Regions from separate parts of the Homo sapiens genome. Here region 2 is reported to be linked to region 1. Evidence: microRNA targets listed by miRTarBase, many of them from high-throughput screens and not tested one by one. Region 1 holds a microRNA gene; the other region holds the end of a gene's coding sequence.

Region 1 (3,798 bases):
GAGAGGCCAGGTGAGGTGGATCACGCCTGTAATCCTCGCCCAGAGGCCAAGGTGGGCGGATCACGAGGTCAGGAGATCGAGACCACCCTGGCTAACACGGTGAAACCCCGTCTCTACTAAAAATACAAAAAATCAGCCAGGCGTGGTGGCAAGTGCCTGTAGTCCCAGCTATTTGGGAGGCTGAGACAGGAGAATGATGTGAACCCAGGAGGCGGAGCTTGCAGTGAGCCAAGATCGTGCCACTGCACTCCAGCCTGGGTGACAGAGTGAGACTCCATCTCCAAAAAAAAAAAAAAAAAAAAAAAAGATGGAAAGATGGAGAGACAGCCAGGGACGGGACGGGCTCATGCCTGTAATCCCAGCACTTTGGGAGGTCATGGCGAACGGATCACTTGAGGCCAGGAGTTCGAGACCAACCTGGGCAACATAGTGAAACTCTGTCTCTACTAAAAAAAATTAGCCCGGGGTCTGTGATGGCGCATCCCTGTAATCCCAGCTACTCAGGAGGCCGAGGCAGGAGAATCGCTTGAATCTGGGATGCAGAGGTTGTGGTGAGCCGCCGAGATTGCATCATTGCACTCCAGCCTGGGCAACAAGAGTGAAATTCCATCTCAAAAAAAAAAAAGCCCAGCGTCGTGGCGCATGCCTGTAATTCCAGCTGCTCGAGAGGATGAGGCATGAGAATCACTTGAACCTGGAAGGCAGAGGCTGCAGTGAGCCGAGATCAAGCCACTGCACTCCAACCTGGGTGACAGAGCAAGACTCTGTCTTAAAAAAAAAAAAAAAAAAAGATGGAGAGACTCAGGTGCTGTACTGCCCAGGTTCAAACCCCAGCTTTGTGGTTTCCTACCCCCATGACCTTGGGCCACTGACTTCAGTTCTCTGCACCTGTTTCTTGTTTCTCACTCTCTTATTCAGGTATTTTTCAGGTACCTACTACATGCCAGAACTGTCTTGGGCACAGAAGGTATTTCAGTGACCAAAACAGACAAAAATTCAGTCCCAGCATTTTTTTTTTTTTTTGGGACAGAGTCTCGCTATCACCCAGGCTGGAGTGCAATGGCATGATCTCAGCTCACTGCAAGCTCCGCCTCCCGGGTTCACGTCATCCTTTTGCCTCAGCCTCCCGAGTAGCTGGGACTACAGGCGCCCACCACCACACCTGGCAAATTTTTTGTATTTTTACTAGAGATGGGGTTTCATTCACCATGTTAGCCAGGATGGTCTCCATCTCCTGACCTTGTGATCCACCCGCCTTGGCCTCCCAAAGTGCTGGGATTACAGGTGTGAGCCACTGTGTCCGGCCAAGTCCCAACTTTTTTTGAGAGGGTCTCACTCTGTCACCGAGGCTGGAGTGCAGTGACATAATCATGGCTCACTGCAGCCTCGATGCCCCAGGCTCAAGTGATCATCCTTCTTCCTTGGTAGTTGGGACTACAGGTATGCATGACATCTCGCCAATTTTTAAAGTTTTTGTAGAGGCTAGGCATGGTGGCTAACCCTTGTAATCCCAGCACTTTGGGAGGCCGAGGCGGGCAGATGACCTGAGGCCAGGAGTTCGAGACCAACCTGGGCAACATGAAGCCCTGTCTCTACAAAAAGGCTGGGTGAGGTGGCTCACGCCTGTAATCCCAGCACTTTGGGAGGCCAAGGTGGGTGGTTCATGAGGTCAGGAGATGGAGACCATCCTGGCTAACACGGTGAAACCATGTCTGTACTAAAAAAAAAAATACAAAAAAATTAGCCAGGCATGGTGGGGGGTGCCTGTAGTCCCAGTTACTCGGGACCCTGAGGCAGAAGAATGGAGTGAACCTGGGGGGTCGTGCGGAGCTTGCAGTGAGCAGAGATCACACCACTGCACTCCAGCCTGGGCGACAGAGCAAGGCACGGTCTCAAAAAAAAAAAAAAAAAAAAAAATTAGCCTGGCATCCATAGTAGCACATGCCTGTAATCCCAGCTACTCCGGAGGCTGAGGCAGGAGAATCGCTTGAAACCAGGAGACGGAGGGCGCAGTGAGCTGAGATCGTGCCATTGCACTCCAGCCTCAGCAACAAGAGTGAAACTCTGTCTCAAAAAAAAAAATTTTTTTTGTAGAGATAGGGTCTCCTCGCTGTGTTGCCAAGCTAGGTTGAGTTGTGTAACTCCTGGCCTCAAGCAATCCTCTGTCTCAGCCTCCCAAAGTACCGTGATTGTAAGGGTGAGCCACTGTGCCCAGCCCCAGCTAACTAACTGGGTTACCTGACCACCTTCTAGGTCTTTGGGGGTAAAGAAGTTGATTTGCATAAAAGTACTTGGGGAAGTACTTGGTGCACAGCAAGTATAACCTTAAAGGGGTTGCTGTGAGGACTTCACAGGGACAGACCAGGAAGTACTGTTTACAAGAAGTACCATTTTTGAGTCAGACTCACCTGGGGTGCCTACCCTGTCCCTTTCCTCTTGGGTGATCTTATGCACTTGAGGTACCCCAGGGATCCTCCTTTTTCCTCCAAGTCTCACCTGCCAGAGGTCCAGGCCCAGCACGCCAAAGTTATCATAGGCATAGATACTGGGATCGGGAGAATACTCGGGGTTGTCAATTTCTGGGTGGATCCAAGTGCCCTTGTAATCTGGGTTGTCGATCTGCCGGGGCTTCCACTCACCCTGCAGAAGGGAGAAGGAAACCGAAGGGTGAGTAAGGTTGGTGCACTCCCCACTGTGAGCCCCAGCCCTGCTCAGAGCCCCAAACTCACCTTGTACTCAGGGTTCTGAATCACTGGGGGTTCCCACTCTCCGTCCATCTCTTCATCCCAGTCCTCGGGCTTCTTAGCATCAGGGTCAGGGATATGCTCGGGCTTGTCCCAGTCCTGGGGGGTAGATGAAGAGATCAGAGTTGGCCCAGATGTCTTCCACACCCTCCAATGTGGAGAGCAGAGCCCCTGCCCAAACACCAACCTCAGGCTTGGAGTCTGTGGGATCATCGATCTTGGCCCGCTCATCCCAGTCTTCCGGTTTTGAAGCATCAGGATCCTTTATCTTCTTGGGTGGCAGGAAGTCCCAATCGTCTTCCAAGGAGCCGGACTCCACCTGGCTGTTGTCAATCTTCACCTCATAGGTGTTGTCTGGCCGCACAATCAGTGTGTACAGGTGTGTAAACTCATCATCCTGAAGAAGGAAGAAGGTGAGCGGGGGCCACCCCCCAATGAGGCTGACCTCTGAATCTCCCCATGACAGCCATTTGCCACCACCCCCAGGCACACCTTGCAACGGATGTCCTTGTTGATCAGCACGTTCTTGCCCTTGTAGTTGAAGATGACATGAACCTTCTTGGTGCCAGGGCCACAGATGTCGGGACCTAGGTGTGAAGCAGATCCAGTTAAGAGTCAGAGACTACCCATCATCTCGAGGCTCTCACCCCTCTTTATAAAAGGAAGACCTGGTTCTTCAACTCGGGTCTGTCAAGGCTGAGAAGAGAAACTCAGACCCTGATTCTGTCCTGAATGGGCTGTGGGTGGAGCCTTAAGTTTAAAGGAGAAAAAAAAAAAATCAGTGCTCTAGAACTCAAAATCCTCATTAGTAAGATTGGGAAATAACTATATACAAACACGCAAATTAAATTAACAGCCTAGATCTGCGATCATAATGCAATAAATTGTTGCTGGGACTTATTCTTTTAGCTCCCCTTCCAAAAAAAATCATTATTAAGAAAGTCAATGGGGTCTGGGTCTCCCTCTAACTAATGGGACAGAGATCAGCACCAGGAAGCAGGCCCTCACCAAACATGATGTTGTATTCTGAGTCTCCGTGCATGTCTGTCTGGTC
Region 2 (3,000 bases), not on the chromosome of region 1:
CGCACGTGCCGAAGGGAGCGCCATGGAACCACTGAGATGGGAGGATGGGAGGAAGCCACCCTCAGCCTCAGAGGCCAAGGGGCTGGGGAGAACCCAAACTCAAAGAGAGGATGTTGTGTGCATGCTAGGAAAGGCAGGACTCACTAAGGCCATGTCAAACCAAATGCTATCTTTTACTGCTCCTCTAGGCCAGGATGGAAACACAGTCCACGGTGCCTTGGATGTGTGTGCCCCTGAGAAGGGAACTGAGTTTCTACTGTTTTATGGGATGTTTTTTTAAAAAAGCTAATCTTTAGTGCCAAGAAAATAAAAATCTACCATACGTTCATTCACTGAGACCCAGTGCAGATTCCTGTAAATGGGGCGGTCTCAGAGGCCACAGGTGATGGCCCCCGCTGCCAACCAGGCAGGACACTGTCATGTGGACTCCTGTAAATTCTCTCGAGGTAAGTAAGCACTCTTCCAACAAGCACCACTTGGGGGTGTGCCCATGGTGGGGGGACACTGGCCCACACAGGCATGCACACCCGTGCATATAAAGTACATAGAGAAATGGTGGAGATATTCCCGTGGGCTATGTTTGCCTGTAGTTTAACACAACTATGCATTATTTTATTGATGGCAAGACAATCACAAGTTATTTGACAATATTAAGTATTTCTTATTTCAACACGTTGCAGTACTTTTGAATTTCCAAAACTTATCACAATGCAAGTTCCAACTTGAGAGCAGGAGAAACAAGAATATACATTGAGCACATGTATCTCCGTGAGGATGTGTTTGTGGAAGGTGTATACACAAGTCTATCTCTATATATAATTATGTACACACATATAAAAACTAAACACATGACATCTGAAACACGTTCAAACATTGGTCCTTGCCTTCTGCAAGAGGTGCTCAGTGGGATCCTGCTTCCTCTCTTCTTCACCTGAAGATAAATTCCTTGCTAGAGATGAGCTCTGGCATACAGCCTCCTAGGCAGAGGGTGTGTGGCAGGCCCACTGCACAAATATCAGTCCTGCCAGATTCTGCTGCACTTACTGCCTGCCATTTCAGATTAATTTCTGAGAAGTTTCAAAATTCATTCCAACGACCTTGTGGAGTTCAGCCCACCATACCCCAGATGGTCATTCATCCCATCTATGACATGCCCAGCAGCAGCCTGGAGGGAGAGCCAATGACAGCAGGGAGGGTGGGGTTTACATTTTGGCCAGACTCACTGCCCATTGCACCTGGCTCTGTGCAGGCTCAGGGCAGTGAGTCTGAGTCTATTTGGAATGCTGGCCAAGTAGGTTATATCACTTAGTGGGAAGAGAGAGTTCTCTTCAGAGACTTTGCAGATTCTCAGGACTAAGCCATTCTCAGGAATGAATCAAAAATGGAAGAGATGGCTCTCTGGGGGCAAGCAGCCTTCTGGAGACCCCACCTGAACCACATCCTCAGGTGACCACAGCGCAGCCACAGTAGCCACAAAGATATGTCCACAAAGACTTCAACTGCGCCATGCCACTGGGGTGAAAACATAGCAACAAATCAGCTTTTCCAGAAAGCACTCAACAATATTAGCAGCTGAGGCTCTAAGAACATGGATCTTTCAAGGTGGTGGTTCTGCAGACAACACCCCCCCCCCCCCCCGCCTCCCCATCACAGAGGATCAACTCCAGGTGGTCCAGCTTCCCTGACATCCAGGAGGAAGGCTTCAGGATGGCACACTGCCCAACATCACACACTGAGTTTCTTAGACTTGGCCCAGGCATGTGTACTGACTGCTGGGTGGGCTGGTTAAAATATTTTCAGAAGTACACATGGCACCCCAGTCTATAAACCACGCACCACGCAGCTGCAATTGCCAACAGCACCTCGTCCTTCTGATGGCCTCTTGCTCTGCCAGTCCCTGAGGGCACAGAGAACACAAGGTTGCCTGTACCCTCAACCCCCTTCAAGGCTTTTCAGGGAAAGAGAAGGAGAGGTGGGAGCAGTTCCTCTGGGGGCTGCTGCCGGGCTGCCTAGAGCCCACAGACCTTGGTCTCAGCTCCACACGAGGTTGACGACCCACTCTGGCCATGGAAAGACAAGAGTCAGAGCTACCTTTTCAGAGGCTGATGTGTTCAACCAATGTTTGATTTAACTGGAGTAGGGCCTAGAGAGTGGGGCCAGATGGCCCCAGACTGAAGCCTAATTAATTTGCTCAGTTAATTGTTTTAATTTATTGGGCTGGGGATAGGAGGAAGGCAGAGGTGATGAATGGTTCAAAGAGAACAGGAAGGAGGAGGTGTGTGGAAAAGGTTCTCTATAAGTTTACAAATATACAAAAACAAAAAGCACATCTTTCAAATAAAAATGACTACATTTTTATCTGGCAAAAAATTGTATACACATGATTTAAATTTTTTTTAAATTTTAACAGTTTTTGGCAATCTTAATAAAGTACAATATATTACAACCAAACCAAAAAATAGTTGTTTAAGTAACAGCCGTTAAGAGTGATGTGATCCCTGATGCCCAGCCTCCCTCCCCATCCCACCCTACTCCTAAAGACAGAGAGAAAAGAAAAATCCTCCCATCTTGATAACTCGGTTCCCTCCCCCCTTAGGAAGCTAGCCAATAGGAAGCAACACAACAAGCAAGGAGTGTCATGGGAAGCCACAGGTCGGCTCTGCATTAGCAGGAGCAGCCGCCCTCGCTGGCCGGGGGCTCCTGGGGTTTGTCCAGCTTGATGTCGATCACTGCAGGGGGACGGGCTAAGGAAGATGACTCTCCTGGACAAGCTGCCACCCCACTTAGCCCTGTGCACTGTACCCTTTGGCTACTGCTCTGTTTCTCTGCAAACACCTAGGGACTTGGCTCTTGGTTTGGCTGGGCTAGGAAGGATGCAATACCAACTCCACCTTGCCTCCTCTTCCCTTCACCCGTCCACTTCCCCCAGCGCCTGTCCACCCAAGCAAAGCCTGTCTTGCCTGGGCCGTGGGATCACCATCTATACCAAGGCCAGGGAGT

Evidence for each region. Region 1 holds the annotated microRNA hsa-miR-6515-5p (UUGGAGGGUGUGGAAGACAUC, at 2,878-2,898, opposite strand). A microRNA usually pairs through its seed, bases 2 to 8, with sites in the 3' UTR of a target mRNA and lowers its output. Matches are read on the target gene's strand: a 7mer-m8 pairs with bases 2 to 8, a 7mer-A1 pairs with bases 2 to 7 and ends in A, and an 8mer does both.
Region 2: miRTarBase lists RAB6B as a target of hsa-miR-6515-5p. Seed matches in the 3' UTR shown: 7mer-m8 at 1,167-1,173.

The regions. Positions count from the first base shown.
Region 1 is chr19:12,939,586-12,943,383 of GRCh38, reverse strand. MIR6515 (microRNA 6515) reads right to left here and starts at 2,900; the gene lies at 2,844-2,900. It overlaps CALR (calreticulin), which reads right to left. Exons shown (of 9, transcript NM_004343.4): 3 at 3,753-3,798; 4 at 3,237-3,331; 5 at 2,932-3,141; 6 at 2,730-2,843; 7 at 2,497-2,640. RefSeq lists enhancers at 2,328-2,955, 2,292-3,491, 3,728-3,798.
Region 2 is chr3:133,826,124-133,829,123 of GRCh38, forward strand. RAB6B (RAB6B, member RAS oncogene family) reads right to left here. Exons shown (of 8, transcript NM_016577.4): 8 at 1-2,729. The coding sequence ends at 2,665. It also overlaps a transcript of SRPRB not described here. Among named protein-coding and RNA genes, the nearest start is that of SRPRB, 22 kb to the left of the region's middle.